Regions from separate parts of the Homo sapiens genome. Here region 1 is linked to region 2. A link means that fine-mapping ties the variant in region 2 to the expression of a gene that starts in the linked region. Tissue or cell type: whole blood. Region 2 holds a variant in brackets; the other region holds the start of a gene. All regions are shown on one strand. Distances are from middle to middle.

Region 1 (8,101 bases), 29 kb after region 2:
CCCTCGCCTGGGGGTCAGGAGAATAGGGTCCTGTGCTAGCTTTGCCACTCCATGGCTAGGTGTCTGGCCCCAACTCTCAGGCCACAGCTTCTTTATATATAAAACAAGGGGACCAGAACTCCACAGAGCTGTTTCTACAGTAGGTCTGGGGAAGGACCACCAGGACTTTCACCCTTTAGGGACCTCAAAGAGACCCCGGGCCGGCTTCCACTGAGCCTCCTTCTGGGGCCTTCTGCTCAGAACCTGGACAAGAGCTGTGGGCTCAGAGGGGAGGATGGGAGGTCTTGGTGCCCTCCTCTGATAGTGAGGGAGAGGAAGGAAGATGTTCTCCAACGCTTCCTTTCAGCTCTGAAAATAAGAGACTAAGAGACAGAGAAAAGAGAGGACAAGGGGGTGAAAGATGAACAAAGCCAAGGAGGGGAGGGATGAGGTAGGTGTGGGCTCACCCCTTCTGCTGCCTGCCCTGGCCGGGCCTTCTCCCCTCAGCTGGCTGCAGTCCTGTAGCCTGTGTAGACAGAGGGAGTCAGGTTGCTGGTGCACAGAAGCTGCCGCGGGCCCCACCCTGACACCCCCCTCCCCGAAGCCCAGGCCCAGAATTGAAGGCAGCAGGGAGATGGTGGGCCCAAGAAAGATGGGAGACCCAGAGCCTTGAACCCTGGGCTCGACCAGAATGCCCAGCAAGGTCCTCTCAACCCCGAGGAGGGTCCCTGCAGCCCTCCCAGCAGTGCCCGAAGCCAGCTCCATCCCGCACCACAGGCAACCTGCCCAACCCAGCCACCCACGTGGACTTGGCCTTGTCCAGGTCCCACGGGCGGCGCCAGTCACCCTGTGCGTCTCTGTGCCGGGCGAGGCGGGCTAGGTCGATCTGCTCCCGCTCCTGCTTCCACTGGGCATAGTCCCAGCCCGCCTCCGGGGGCTCCCCCACCGGCCGGCTCCAGGGCTCCCAAGAACCCTGTAGGGAGAAGACACTCAGAGTGAGGGGGAGAAGCAGGAAGAGGCTTGGGGTGGGGTTTGGAGACTCCAGGCGCTTCCTCTCTCAAGGTTTCCACATCTCCAGCTAAAAATTAGGCCTGTTCCAGCTCTCCCGTGGAAATGGTTTCCATCCACTTGTTAGCTGTGTGTTTTACATAAGTAATTTAACCTCTCTGTGTCTCATTTCCTCGTGTAAAATGGGGAGGATCTCCGTAGCACCAACCCACAGGGGTGTTGCAGGGGTATGCAGACGGGCCGGAGTGGGAGGGGCCCTGGAAGCTGTGAGCAAGGGCAAGGACTAGGGGCTGCTGCCACCTAGAGGTCACACCTGGCACTTGGCCAGTCAACTCCACCCTCCTGCCCCCTCCCCAACTCCCATGCCACCATCAGCAGGGCTAAATAGGGGAGGGGGCTGGATCACATCTTTGGCTTAAACTGTCTCCCACTTCAAGGCCCACCCAAAGTAGAGACTGGCCAGAGAAAGGGAGGAGGAGCAGGAACTCCTGCATGTGCTCCCTTGGCCACGTCCCCGCAAATGAGGGACATATCTGACTCAGCTTCTCTGCCTCCCCCAAGTGAGGACCTTCAGATCCATGTCCCCATCCCCTCTTGAAGACACACCTTCCGTGCAGAATCTGAGCTGATGGCCACCTGCGTGGGGGGGCTTCGGGTCACACGCCCTCCAGGTGACCCCTCTATGCCTTGGTTCCTTGCTCTGGTAGGCTTTTCACTTACAATCCGTTTGCCCTGGGGAGGATGAAGATGGGCAGTGCAGCAGAGCCAGGGAGGAAGAGGCTGCCTGCCGATGCCTGCACTCCCCACCACCCTGCTCACCTCTGCTTTGTTCTCCATGGTCACAGCCAGCTCCACCAGCTCCCCTAAGCAGAAAGTACCCCCGTGGTCCTCAGCATCCTCATCCTCAAGCATCTCGTTGGTCACTCTGGGTCCACAGGTACCCCTTGCCCAGTTCCTGCTAACCACCCGCTTTTCCTGCAGAACAAAGACCCTCAGGCCACATGGGCAGTGCTGGGCAGGACCTGGGTGCTGGGTCCTCTCGGTGGTTCCCCAGGCCTGGGTTCCAACCCCAGCCCTCCCTGCATTCCCCACAGAAGAGCTGACTCCCACAGGGTGTTCACATGCCAATGGCATGAGGTTATCCAGGGCCCAGGGCCACCCAGCGGCCCAAGATGCCACAGTGGCCCGTCATCTCTGAGCTGGGAAACCCAGAGCACTCAAACAATGGGTCTCTGTCCCTCAGACACTGCTCCTGGCATTCAGCCCCAACTTCTCTGTCCCCCACTTCCTGCAGGGTTTTAGCCCCTGGGGCTTGAGGTTTAGGAGTGGCCTGTGCTTTGTGGCATAGGCGCAGGGCTGTGGACTGGAAAAGGGTATGAAGATGCATCTACTGGGGGTAGGGGGGCTTTCAGCTGTGGCTCTTTGGTGGGGACAGCAGTGGTCCGACTGCAGGAGGTTGGGAGCTGGCAGGTGCACCCCAGAATAGTTAGTAGGAGAGGGGAACAGAGGCAGCTGTCTTTCCCCGACATGGTCTGGGCCTCCACCTCCTTGCTACGAGCCCTGTCTCCCAGGGTGAGGCTTACACCGGGAACCTGGCTGATGGTAACGGTGAGGCCATCAGGCTGGAGGAGTGCTGGTGTGGTCACAGCCATCCCCCCCTGCTCTGCCTGCCGACGGTCCTCCTGGATCTCCTGTGGGAGGGCTGGGGGTCAGCACACGCCATGGCCCCCCAGGTGCACAGAGACATAGATGCTGATAGGCCTACACAGAGAGACACCAGTGGGACACCAGGGGGCAGAGGCGCCACATCACACATCCCCAGGACCCTCACCAAGCCTCTAAGAGGGACCATGCCCACCCTACCCCTGGCCCCAGCCCCAGAGGCGCATTGCTGAGCCTGCAGGGAGACCACCACGTGTGGGGCACAGGGAGCGGCAGCCAAGTGGTTTCTCCTGGCCCTGTGGCAGCCCACTCACCTGGTACCTGCGGAGCAAGGCCTGGTTCTTCTTGCGCAGGGCAACTATCCTCCGATCCAGCTCTGCGTCCTTCTCCTGCCTGCTCATGGGGGACTCGGCTCTGGGAGTTCCCTGCAGAGGCAGGGAACCCAAGCTCCTGACTTCCGGGTCCCCCTCTCACCAGTCCCCAGCTTTCACATTTTCACCACCCAAGGAAGAGATCCCAGACCCACAGCTAAGGTCACCCAGGAAGGAAGGGGATTGCTTAGGGAGATGGCCCAAATAAGGCCCCAAGCCCCCATTCCAGCTAGGCCCGTCTGCCTGTCCCTGCCTCCTCAGGGGGCTCAGGTCAGGGCCTCATACCCCAAGCCACAGCTCCCAGCAGTGGGGTGCCCCTCCCCCAGCTCTCCAGGGAGCTTCACTGCCGAGCAGAGCCTGGAATGGGAGTTATAAATGGCTCTGGCAGCGGAACCTGCCGTGACTGGGAAGCTGCCAGGGGATTCGGGAGGTCGAGGGGGGAGCTGTTTGGCTCCCAGATCCACAACCAGAGAAAAAGGAGAGGCCCTGGCTCCGTCCTGGGCTCTCAGGCCCTGGACCCCGCACCTAGGCCTGTGCCCAGCCTGGAGGAAAGAGCCGCTCCCAGGGGCCCAGCCTCTCCAGGCCGAAAGCTGCTGGTAGTCGGGGCGGAGAGAGCCAGCTCCCCTGGCGGCCCCAGCCCAGGAGTCACCCTGGGCAAGCCATGTCTCTGCATCAAGATTCCAGGTTCCTCTCTGTCTGGATGCAGGTTCTCTGTTGTGACCCTAGTCACAGCCTTCTTCCTCCCAGCCCCAGCTGTCCCCAGCTGCCCCCAGAGGGTGGCTGCCTGGTATCCCAGCCCCCTCCCAGTCCCAAGAAGCCCCCTGCCAAAGGCAGACTGCCACTCACAGCCGAGTGCATGGCAACGGCGGGCACCGAGAGAATTCCAGAGCAGCCCCTGGGGAGCCAGAGTGGGAGGAAAGCTGGAGCCACCGGAGCCGGGCCTCTGCCGGCCTCTCCCTGCCGGCTTCGCTGCTCAGCACACGAGATCATGTTGTGATTACAAAAGACTCCTCTGGGCTCCCAGCCAGGAACGTCGGGCCGCCACCCCCACCCTTCCACTCTCAGAGGGCGAGGACCAGGGCACTGGCAGCTGGCTGGTCCTGCCTAGCACCTCTCCCTGCCCCACCCCAGCGTCCCCAGACAGACTGGTAGGGACTTCTCCCTGGTGGGTCAAGCCTACACAGGAGGCCTGGCTGCCTAGGCCCCAGCAGGACCCCAGCCTGGGCCTGCCTGCAGACAAGATGGGCAGCCAGCGTAGGCCTCTGTGCCTCCCATGAGTAGAAAAAGGCCTACAGCACACAGATGCGCCTGCCCTCTCCTGCTCCTTCTCCTCATCAGCCTTGGTTTAAGTAATTCAAAGGGATCAAGAAGCTCACCTCCCCTAGACTACCAAGTACTACCACATCCCTAAAATGACAACAATAGTCATTCATTCTTTTAGGTTGGACATTGTCTTCTCTGTGCAGTCATGCACCATATAATGACGTTTCACTCAACAATGGACCACATATATGATGGTGGTCCCATAAGATTATAATGGAGCTACAAATTCCTATGGCTTAGTGACATTGTAGCCATTATAACATGGTAGCACAGGGCACTACTTATGTGCTTATGGTGACGCTTGTGTAAACAGACCTACGGCATGACAGCCGCACAAAAGTATGGCACATACAAGTGTGCACAGTACAGAATACCTGATAATGATAATTAACAATTATGTTACTGGCTTATGTATTTACTATACTATACTTTTTATCATTATTTTAGAGTGTATTTCTTCTACTTACAACAACAACAAAAAAAAGTGAACTGTAAAACAGCCTCGGGCAGGTCCTTCAGGAGGAAATCCAGAAGGCATTGTTAGCATAGGAGATGACAGCTGCAGGCCTGTTAATGCCCCTGAAGACCTTCCAGTGGGTCAATATGTGGAATGGAAGACAGTGATGTTGATGATTCTGACTCTGTGTAGGCCTAGGCTAATGTGTGTGTGTTAGATTTTGAGAAAAAAGTTTAAAAAGTTAAAAAAAAGAAAAAGTTTCAAAATAGCAAAAAAACTTATAGAATAAGGATATAAAGAGAAAATATTTTTGTACAGCTGTACAATGTGTTTTGTTTGTGTTTTAAGCTAAGGGTTATTACCAAGAGAGTCAAAAAGTTTTTTTAAATTAAAAAGTTTATAAAGTAAAAAGGTTACAGTAAGCTAAGGTTAATTTATTACTGAAGAAACAAAAATATATATTTTTTAATTTTTCATTTTTTGAGACAGTCTCACTCTGTCACCCAAGCCAGAGGTCAGTGACATGATCATGGCTCACTGCAGCCTCAACCTCCTGGGCTCAAGGGATCCCCCTGCCTCAGCCTCCTGAGTAGCTTGGACAACAGGCGCATGCCACCATGTCCAGGTAGTTTTAAAATTTTTTGTAGAGAGAACGTCTTGCTATGTTGCACAGGCTGGTCTTGAACACCTAGGCTCAAGTGATCCTCCTGCCTTGGCCTCCCAAAGTACTAGGATGACAGGCATGAGCCACCATGCCTGACCAAAAAATCATTCGTATAAATTTAGTCTAACGTAAGTGTACAGTGTTTATAAAATCTATAGTAGCAGACGGTAATGTCCTAGGCCTTCAGATTCACTCATCACTCACTCAGTGACTCACCAGAGCAACCTCCAGTCCTGCAGGCTTCATTCATGGTAAGTGCCCTATACAGGTGTGCCATTTTAAATCTTGTACACCATATTTTTACTATATCTTTTCTAAGTTTAGATATGTAAACACTTAGCACTGTGTTACAGCTGCCTACAGTATGCAGTACAGTAACCTGCTGTACAGGTTTGTAGCCTAGGAGCAATAGCTATACCATATAGCCTGGGTGTGTAGTAGGCTGTACCATCTAGGTTTGTGTAAGTGCTCTCTGTGGTGTTCACACAATGACAAAACCACCTAACAACGTATTTCTCAGAACATAGCCCTGTCATTAGCAGACACATGACTATGTTTTAAAGCACAGCCGCTTCCAAGAGGCTCTGTTGTTTGGGTCTCTAGCCCTTTGGTATGGTGAGCCAGGCATTCCTCCAGGGCCCTTGCCATGGCAGTTCAGAGCTGGTCAACAGCCTTCCTCCCTCGGGCCCTAAGTTTGGGCCCTTCCTGGCCTTGCTCTCCAAGACTGGCTTTTTCAGCCTCTCTGAACCTGGCAAAGGAATCAGCCCTTCTCAGGAAAGCTCCTCCCCCATATCTTCCTCATACAGCTGAGACTGGTCTCCCTGCCCAGGCTCCTAGAGCCTCTGGGACTCAAGGCTTGGGGGTGCTGAGAGGAGGGTGGTCTTTCTGGACTAGGAATTCGTGGAGTCTGTTTCCTCAGCTACAAGGCCCTGAGCTCCAGGCCCTCAGGTGAGAATCAGAAGCCCCTGCATTCCCCACATCCCTGATTGACCAGGCCAGTTTCCCAAATGCCACAACTCGTCCCCTCTGTCTCCAGAGCAGAAACCCCCGCTGCCTTCTTTCTCCTCCCAGACCCACCCAGGCAGCCAGAGGTCCAACCTCCACCCCTCCAGAACTGCCCTTTCCTCCCCACTCCCTCCCCCAGCTCCGCCAGGCTTAGCCCTCTTCCTGTCCAGGCCTTTGCACAGCACCCCTGGCCCCACACCCCATCTCCACCACCCCAGAGTTCCCATCTTGCTTGCAAATGCCACTGCGCTCTCCCTTCCTTTCCTGCCGGATGTCCCCACTGAGTCAGACTCGTCAAACTCTCCCAGCAACCATGACGCACCCAGGCTTTGTGCCCTGGGCCTCTCTCACACACATACACGCACACACTCTCTCTCCTTCTCCCAGACGCTCTGCATCCTGCCCCATACAGTGGACTGAGTTCCACGCCAGCCTCAGGAGGCTTCAGAAGCCTCCAGAAGCCTCAAACTTCCCTTCGCCTGCCCCGCACTGTGTTGGAGCTGGGAGGCCCGCAGAGCACTTGCTGGGGAGGGAGACCTAATGCTCTCCAGCCTCTTCAGAACTCAGGCCCGGACCAGGTCTGGGGAGGAGATGTGTAGATGGGGTAAGGAAGCTACAGGGATAAGGCAAGGCTGTGTACCCCCTCCCCCATTCCCAGACAAGGTGGGGGCAAGAGAGTAGCAGGGGGGTAAAGGCATGGGCACAGGCTTATCGCCTGTGGGATGGCCACACAGCTCTTCTGGAAGGGCCTGCAGGAACACACTCCCCTCACCTAGGGCAAAGGCCTTCTGGTCTGTCAGGCTAGAGGGGTATGTGCCCAAGACAAACCAACCATCATACGGGGGGTACCAGCAGCTGCTGACTGTGTGTTTCCCAGTGTTATTCACACATGACGTCACACCTCTGAGCAGCCCCCACAGTCTCCCACTTTCCCCAGAGTCTGTGGTTGGCCTGTCTGCTCTCCATTGGACAGAGGCTCTCTGAGGGCAGGAATGACCTGCCAAGTGCCTCTGGATCCCCAGTGTCTGGCACGGTGCCCCTGCATACTAAAGAACCTCCATCAGCACTTCCAGAATGAAGACATGCGTGAATTGTGCTTGCCATCCTGTGCATAGCTGTGGGTATCCTATGCATAGGCTGGGACTGCCTTTCTGTCCACCTAGAATGTACGCAGCCCTGAGGGAGCCGGTGGGTGGTAAAGGTGCCCTAAGAGTAGCCCCACCCCACCCCGGGGAGAAGCCCACAGGAAGCAGGGGAGATGGAGAAGGACCAGCTTGCCATCCCCATGAGACTGGGTGTCTGTTTCTCTGTGTCGCCACTAAGGGGCAGCAGAGCGACAACAGCCTGTTTTTGGGTGCGGGAGGCGGTTCCCTTTCTCTGTTGTTCCACAGGGCCTCCCCCAAGTCCCTGTAACCTCCACCTCCCAACTCCATCAGACTAGAGAAGCCATCTAGTTGTAGAAGACTTATTTTATTGATGAGGAAGCTGAAGCCCAAAGAGGTGGCGCCCTCTGCCCAGGTGGCACAGCCTGTCTGTGATGCCGCTGAGGCCACACACCCGGGAGCTGCCTCCTGCCCAGGGCGCCTTCACCGGCTGCCCCGCCAATGCCGTTCTGCTGATCCTTCCCTCTGT
Region 2 (8,095 bases):
TGGTCTCTGGTCAGATTTGGCCCAGGAGGGCTGGAGAAGGACGACATGGAGACCAGCTGGGGAGACTGCTGCCCAGGCCTGGACTGAGGGAAGGCACAGGGAGCTCACTAGGAGAAAGGACCTCCTCAGGGGAAGGGTCCAGAGCATGGGCATCTGACCCCAAAGGTTGGGAGCACCGTAGAGGCAGGGGTGGGGTGGGGACAGGGCCCAGCTGGAATGGAGTGTTTTGAATAAGCAAAGTTTGCTGAACACACGGCTCCTCTTTCTCAATGCTTCCTCCCCCATGAAAATGAGGTGCACCTGCCGGGCGGGCGGGTGCGGTGGCTCACGCCTGTAATCCTAGCACTTTGGGAGGCCGAGGCGGGCGGATCACGAGGTCAGGAGATCGAGACCATCCTGGCTAACACGGTGAAACCCTGTCTCTACTAAAAATGCAAAAAATTAGCTGGGCGTGGCAGCGGCGCCTGTAGTCCCAGCTACTCGGGAGGCTGAGGCAGGAGAATGGCATGAACCCAGGAGGCGGAGCTTGCAATGAGCCGAGATGGCGCCACTGCACTCCAGCCTGGGCGACAGAGCAAGACTCCATCTCGAAAAAAATAAAAAAAGAAAGAAAATGAGGGGCACATGAGGCAAGGCAATCACTCCCCTCACCCACCTCACCAGACTCCCACCTCTGGGCCTCTGGGACTGCCTGAGGCCTGGACCCCCACTGAGCAGCCCTAGCCCCTGCCTCCACTGCGCTCTCCTCTCTCCTCCGTGTGCCCGCCTCTGCTGTGTACCCCAGCCTGCAGCGGGGCTGGGGCGGAGGGATGGCTGCTCTGGTTGGCCAGGCTCAGCCCCAGCTGCTCAGGTGCCTGACCCACACTCTGCCCCAGGCCCAGGGAGTTCAGCACCAGTCCAGCTCAGCCCAGCCCACTTCCTCTTGCCTAATCTGCTCCTCTTATCGCCCTTCTTAGCCCAGCCTGGGAGGCAGGGAGCTCTACCCAAGACTTCCTTCCCCTCTGGGGCCTGGCCTTTTGCCCTGGGTCACCCCCCCATGGGGCTTTGCATACCCCCAACAACGGTAAGACCCTCACCCAGGCCCTAGAATTGTCGCGGCTGGAGGTCTGGTCCAGGGCAGGGTGGAGGGTGAGGGAGGACACTCTTCATGCGGAATTAAGATAATAAACTGCCCAGTGGAGGCTGGAGCTAAGGGAATTCCCAGCACAGAAATAATCTGCAGAAGAGCAATTCTAGGGCCGGGGGATGGAGCCGGAGCAGGGCCTGACCAAGCCTCTGGAAATGGTAACAATTCAGAGGACTCTTCTTCCTCGTTTCCCCCAGTCCCTTAGCGTCATCTCTCCTCTCTCCCTCCCTCCAGTCTGGGGCCCTTCTGGGGGCCCCTCTGGCAGCCCATGCTGTTCTGGGTTCCTCCCTGGGATCAGGTTCCCTCGATATCTGTTTGAATGGATTTTGCAAGGGAAATCCCTGTCCCTTCCCAAAGCCCCTGCACCTGTCACCTGCGGCTGCCCTGGTCCCGGCACCCAAGTCCCTCCCTTTCATCTGTCCTGTAGCCATCAGCCCCCTCTCCACTTTGGGCCTGGAGAGACCAGTCCATTCCTCCCCCTCAGCCTGAGGAGGAAAGGGACAGCCTCCTCTCCTCATTTCAGGATTTCAGGGCTCCTCACTCTGTTCCTTTCCATCTCCAGCTCCGAATCCACAGAACAAAGCCTTGCCCATCTTTACTCAGTGATGTCACTGCCTGCACTGTTCTTGGGACCACAACTGTAGCTTCAGTGGGGGCCTGTACTCTCCTGCTCACATCCTGACCTCCTGCAAAGCTAGCTCCAAAAATGCAGAAAATCCAGGCAGTCAGGAGAGCGGAAAATCTTCATCAAAGAGCTTTTTGCTTTTAAAAATACATTTAGGTTTGAAAATTTGTGTTGACAAAGAAAAATGTTATGTAAATAATAGTAGAGAAAATCAGGGTAGTTACATGAATGCCCCGTTTGGGAAATGTGGCCTTGGGCTCCTGGGCTGAGCTGGGTAGAGGGCAACCCTGCAGTGGGCCAGTCTCACCCCTCCAGGGTGGGCAGTGGAAGGGCAAGGATGCCCCCTGCTGGGTGCACTCAAAGCATGCATGTCCTGGAAGTTGCGGTTGGGTCTGTCATTTGTGACCCACGGGAACACCTATGCCAGAGAGTTTGGCAAGTGGGAGCCTTGGGCCATAGAATGTGGTAAGAACTTATATTCAACCAAATGTTGCCTCCCACAAGGGACATGCTTGTGACCTGGACCCCAGCACATATGTCCCAAGTTCATTTGTTCACTTGCCAGTGCTATGTGGGAGCCCCATGCATTGGTTTCCCAGTTTGCTCATCAGAGAAGTTTAATGGCAGAAGTTGAACTCAGACCTTCAGGTGCCACAGCTGCCAGCCAAATAAGAGGATCAGACTAGGTCGGTTTCTTATCTGATGCCATGATGGTTGAAGCAGTGGGTTTCAGGAGTGTGGAACCCTGTTGTCCATCTTGGTCAAGGGCTGGCCCTCTTTTGGAGGGAAGATGGCTCTTATGGTGTCTGTTTCCCAGTCTGGCAAAGGGAGCCACACTCACCACTCTAGGAACCCAGCCACTTACTAGCTGGTTTATCTTGTGATACTTAACCTTCTTGGGCCTCAGCCTTCTCACCTGTAAAATGGGGATAATAATGCCTCATGGGGATGTTGCAAGGATTAAAGAATATAATGAATGGTACTTAATACAGTGCCTACACATGAGCTCAATAATACTATCATTATCATTATGAGTTATCATTGTTATTTTATTATTACTTATTAGCAGACACTGACAGGAAAAATGGCAGTTTCTTATTCCTTCTTCAACAGTTCTTTCTACAAACGTCTTCACTGACTTTCTCTTTGGATTTTTCTTCCAGCAGTTCGTGTGGATCAGGGGCTGTACCCACCTTTGCAGGGCAGACTGAGTTAGGGTTGCTCCTGTCTGTGGACTTGAAGCAAGCTGTTCCCAAGCGGCCTGAACTCATGAAGTGATGAGCACAAGGGCTCCAATCATGGGCAAGTGCCAGCCTCCCACCAGCTTCATGCCACCACAGCCCCCCAGCTGATGAGGCACAGATGAGAGTGCTGAGCTGCCCAGCTGTGTGTCCCTCTGTGGCCCCAGCTTCAGCCACCCTCTGTGTACTGAGAGCTAAGCAGAAGTGGAGGCATGGGCAAGGCTGGGTAGCCAACACTGATCCCTTAGGGAGGAGAGAGGCAATCAAGTTTCCTGTAGATGCCCAGGAGGAAGATGTTGCTTGTCTTCCCATTCCAAGCCCCTCTATAACCCGACAAGGAACCATCTGGGACTTAGAAGTGGAAAACAAACTGGGCATGGTGGCTCACGCCTGTAATCCCAGCACTTTGGGAGGCCGAGGCGGGTGGGTCACGAAGTCAGGAGCTCAAGATCAGCCTGACCATCATGGTGAAACCCCGTCTCTACCAAAAATACAAAAATGAGCCAGACATGGTGGCACACACCTGTAATCCCAATTACTCAGGTGGCTAAGGCAGGAGAATAGCTGGAACTGGGAGGCAGAGGTTGCAGTGAGCCAAGTTCACACCATTGCCTCCAGCCTGGGTGACAGAACGAGACTCCATCTCAAAAAAAAAAAAGTGGAAAACAATCAGTCCATGTATGTTTCTCTTTGAAGTGCTATTTTGGATCAAATTTACCTGTGTCCATCTTCAAGAAAC[C/A]CAGAGTTTAGTCCCCACTGGAGCAAAGGTTTGTTCTGTGATCTTAGCAAGTTACCTGAGCCCTTGAATCTGTCAAACTTTTGATCATTTCTAAGAATCCTTCCAGCTCTAAAAATCTCTTTCCACTTGGAAGGGCCAATCTTGTCACTTTTCTCTCTTGCCTTTCCTCTGAGAGACAACAAACCTAGAGATGAGAGCTGTAGGTGGCAGGAGAGGCTTAGCTCTCATCCCAGTGTGACATTCTTGGGCACAATCACTCCTCTGCCTCTGTCAATCCCTCTGTGAAATGGGCCAGTTTTAATAAGTGTGATAGAAATAAATTATATGATGTCCTCCTCTAGGTGGGCACGGTGCATTGCATATAGGGAAGGTCATCAGTATTGATCAATTGCTTCTGTTCTTACTCCTGTCCTGGTCCAACCTTTTTTTTTTTTTTTAGAAGTTAAGCCTTTATTTCCTTGTTTTGTAAATAAAGCTGGCTGAGTTGGTTGTTTTTTGATGATTAGTCAAAGAGACCAAATCCCATATCCTCACCCAGCTCCTCCACCTCTTCCTTGGCTTCAACCTTAGCTGGGGCTGCAGCAGCGGGAGCAGCCGTGGTGGCAACAGCCACAGAGGCAATAGCCACAAATGCAGATGGATCAGCCAAGAAGGCCTTGACCTTTCCAGCAAGTGGGAAGGTATAATCAGTCTCCACAGAGCCAGGGCTCATTTGTACCCACTGATGATAGAATGGGGTACTGATGCAACAGGTGGGTAGCCAGTCTGCAGACAGACACTGGCAACATCGCGGACAACCTTCAGGAAGCAAGAAGGAAGTTTCCTCTGTGATGTCAAGCACTTCAGGGTTGTAGATGCTGCCATTGTCAGATGCCTGCTGGATGACCAGCGCAAAGGAGGAGGGAGAAATGCTCGGCGTGTTCAGCAGCGTGGCTTTGTTGGCTCCCACTTTGTCTCCAGTCTTGATCAGCTGCACATCACTCAGGATTTCAATGGTGCCCCTGGAGATTTTAGTGGTGATTCCTAAAGCCTGGAAAAAGGAGGTTTTCTCTGGCCCCAGACCAGTGTTCTGGGCTGGCACAGTGACTTCACATGGGGCAATGGGACCAGCACAGGTGGCAGCTGGCACCTTACTAGCCAGCAACATGTCCTTGATTTCAGTGAGGTCCTCCTTGGTGAATGCAAAGCCCACATTCCCCCAGATATGAGGCAGCAGTTTCTCCAGAGCTGGGTTGTTTTCCAGGTGCCCTCAGATGGCCGTGAGCATCATGGTGTTCTTGTCCATCAGCACCACGGCCTTCTCTCAGAGGGACATGCAGATCTGCTGCGTCTGCTTGGAGCCCACATTGCTGCTCCCACGATGAAACATTTTGGATAATCATCCAAAAGCTGGATGATCTTGAAGTAGTTGGACTTCCAGGTCATCCTGTCTTCCCTGGGCATCACGGCAGTGCATCAGGGATTGCCACGCAGGGTTTAAAGACAATGTCACTTTCACGAGGATGCCAAGAGAGAGTTTTTTTTTTTTTTTTTTTTTTTAATATACGATGTAATCTCACCCTGTTGCCCAGGCTGGTCTTGAACTCCTGGGCTCAAGCAATCCTCCCACCTCACCCTCTCCAGTAGCTGGGATTATGGGCATGTACCACCAAACTTGGCATCTGATCCACCTTTTTATCAGGACCTGGGCAAAGCCACAGAGAACAAGCCCCTCAACTTTGCGAATAGCAAGGAGCCAGCGAAGACAGGAATATGTTGGAAGACAGACTCAGGATCCAAAAACATTCTAACCTATTGGAGCACTGGCCTAAACCTCCCAAGGTGAAATGAACAGGGCTTAACTGAGAGATCTGGGCTTGGTGCCAAGACACCGACTGTACAAGGACAGGGTGGGGAAGTGGCAGCTTAGCAGAAGCATGTGTGAATAAAACTGAGGGTTTTCGCTGACAGCCAGCTCCATCTGAGTCAAATGACAGAGCTGCCAATAAAAACGGGCAGACTCAGGCTGCCGAACTGAAGTCGGGTACTGAGCCCTGTGGTTCTCCATCTTGATATCACACCAGAACCACCTGCAAAGCTCTGGTAACACTGCATATTCCTTGCTGTACCAAGACCCTCTGAATCGTGATCTGGGATGAGATGAGAGAGGGAAAGGAAGGTGAGGAGTTTGCATTTCTTTTATTTTTTTTTAGAGACAGGTTTCACTCTGCTACCCAGGCTGGTCTCAAGCTCATGGGCTCAAGCAATCCTCGTGCCTTGGCCTCCCAAAGTGTTGGGATTATAGGCATGAGTCACTGCGCCCAGCCAGGAGTTTGAGTTTCTAAAGAGTATCCCCCCTCATTCCAAGATGCATCCAGGGCTTTTGAACCAAGGAACAATCAGTCCCATTCTCATTCTCAGCACAACAGACCACACCCAAAATACTTGAGGAATTCAGTTTAGGTTGCTTTGTTGCAGGGAAGGTCATAAGTTGAAGGATATTTGGTGGAAAGCAGCCAGGATGCAGGCAACACTCTGAAGAGAACCACTTTATAGAAGACACAGGTGGCCAGGAGGCCCAACTTCACATGGATGAGTCTTGTTCTCTGAGGTCCCAAAAGTTAGAATCTAGGCCAGGTGCGGTGGCTCACGCCTGTAATCTCAGCACTTTGGGGGGCTGAGGGGGGCAGACCATCTGAGGCCAGGAGCTCAAGTCCCACCTGGCCAACATGGTGAAACCCCATCTCTACTAAAAATATAAAAATTAGCCAGGCGCAGTGGCACATGCCTGTAGTCCCAGCTACTCAGGAGGCTGAGTCAGGAGAATTGCTTGAACCCGGGAGGCGGAGGTTGCAGTGACCCAAGATTGTGCCACTGCACTTCAGCCTGTGCGACAGAGCGAGACTCTCTCTCAAAAAAAATTTAAGTACATATTTTTTTAAAGTTAGAATCTTAGGAGACTGTCTTAGGTCAGGTTTCTCAGGAAACATGCCGAGATAGAGATTTTCTTGTAGGAAGTTTATTGGGGGTGCTTTCAGAGATAACATCTGTGAACTAGTGAAAGAATCAGAATCAAGCCAGAGGAAGAAATTGGTGAACAATGCAGTCACAATACAGAATGCTTCCACAGGAAGCCCTGGGGTTGAGCTGGCCCCGTAGAGTTAGCCCCAACTTGGATAAGAGGGCTGTACCTTTGAATTCCACATTGACTTGGCAGATGACCCCTAGGGAAGGGTTGTGAAGTCCAGCAAGACAGCTCCCTTTAGCAGCTGAAGGAAATGCCAAGGGAGAGACTCATGTGTGAGCCATTGGCAGCCAACACTTCTGGCAACTTCAGGGATAAGCTCCTTGGTCCTAAAAGCAGTATCTGGGTGGTGCACCACAGCAACCGAGACAGTACCCCCAGGCATAGCCCAGACCTACTTGATTTATGTGGTAAGTTCACTCTACCTGGGAATAGCTCCTCCTGGATTCTGGGAAACTTACAAGAATTAAATGGAGAAACTATAGCCCCCACTACTGCAACTAGTCTTGGTGACACAATTGATGTTCATCATTCCCCTTCTCTGTCACTCATTCTAGATTCTTTTTACCTTCAACTTGCACCTCTGCTGGTGTAGGTGGCTTGCCTGTCGGGGTAACCAATCACCAATCACCATGGCCTTCAGACCATGCTGCTGATGTGTCCACCTTCCACCAAAATTGGGCATACCAACAGACACCCCAGTGGATCACCTGGGTGCCAAACATATTCTTTCCTGACCCCCTTATGTAACAGCAGCCCTATCTCTCCCAAAGGATGGGGGTCAGTTGCCCCTTCCAGGAAGTGACTCCTCTTCTTTCCTGCTGGTTTCTTGGCACAAAGAGTCTGACGAACAGAAAGCAGCCATACTTAAGTTTATGGGGTTCTTGTTCTGTCCCTGGTGGAAGTGCTCCCCCTCTGGGAACCAGATTCTCTGAACCTGGAGAGCTTGGAACTGCAGGAATGGGAACCACAAATTCCTCCAGAAAGGTCACTGGGAGTGATGGTAAGTGGAGTCATTCCTACTTCTACCCCTAGTTTCCTAAACCTCTATTCTACACGTTGACACATAGCACCATATATAACAGTTATTGATTAGGATGCATACCTCATCCTGGAGCACGGTGTCCCATCATCTCTAACATGGTATTTCAGCTGTGCTTCTAAAGGCTGTTCTATCATTCCACCAGCTCTATTCAGCTTCTGGATGGTGAAGTATGTAATAGGCCTAAAAGATCCCATGATCATGTGCCCATTCTATCCTTAAAGTGGGACTCTTGGTCTTCTGCAATGGTATGTGAGATCCCACGTCAGTGAATCAAACACTCTTTTAGCCCCCAGAGAGTGGCCTTTGAGCAGAAAA

The links. PIP is the estimated chance that this variant, and not a neighbour inherited with it, causes the effect.
Region 1: CCDC9B starts here. The variant in region 2 is fine-mapped to the expression of CCDC9B in whole blood (TOPMed, PIP above 0.99).

Annotation. Positions count from the first base shown.
Region 1 is chr15:40,336,942-40,345,042 of GRCh38, forward strand. It overlaps CCDC9B (coiled-coil domain containing 9B), which reads right to left and starts at 3,998. Exons shown (of 11, transcript NM_207380.3): 1 at 3,867-3,998; 2 at 2,964-3,074; 3 at 2,571-2,678; 4 at 1,807-1,962; 5 at 1,594-1,719; 6 at 783-952; 7 at 447-505. The coding sequence starts at 3,878. RefSeq lists enhancers at 1-181, 3,091-3,894, 6,839-7,338, 7,522-8,101 and silencers at 7,689-7,798, 7,819-7,908.
Region 2 is chr15:40,308,116-40,316,210 of GRCh38, forward strand. It overlaps LOC112268152 (a long non-coding RNA gene), which reads right to left. Exons shown (of 3, transcript XR_002957721.2): 3 at 1,922-2,667. It also overlaps the pseudogene RPLP0P10. Among named protein-coding and RNA genes, the nearest start is that of PLCB2, 4.2 kb to the left of the region's middle. RefSeq lists a silencer at 1,950-2,153. The variant C/A (reference allele first, on the strand shown) is at 3,732.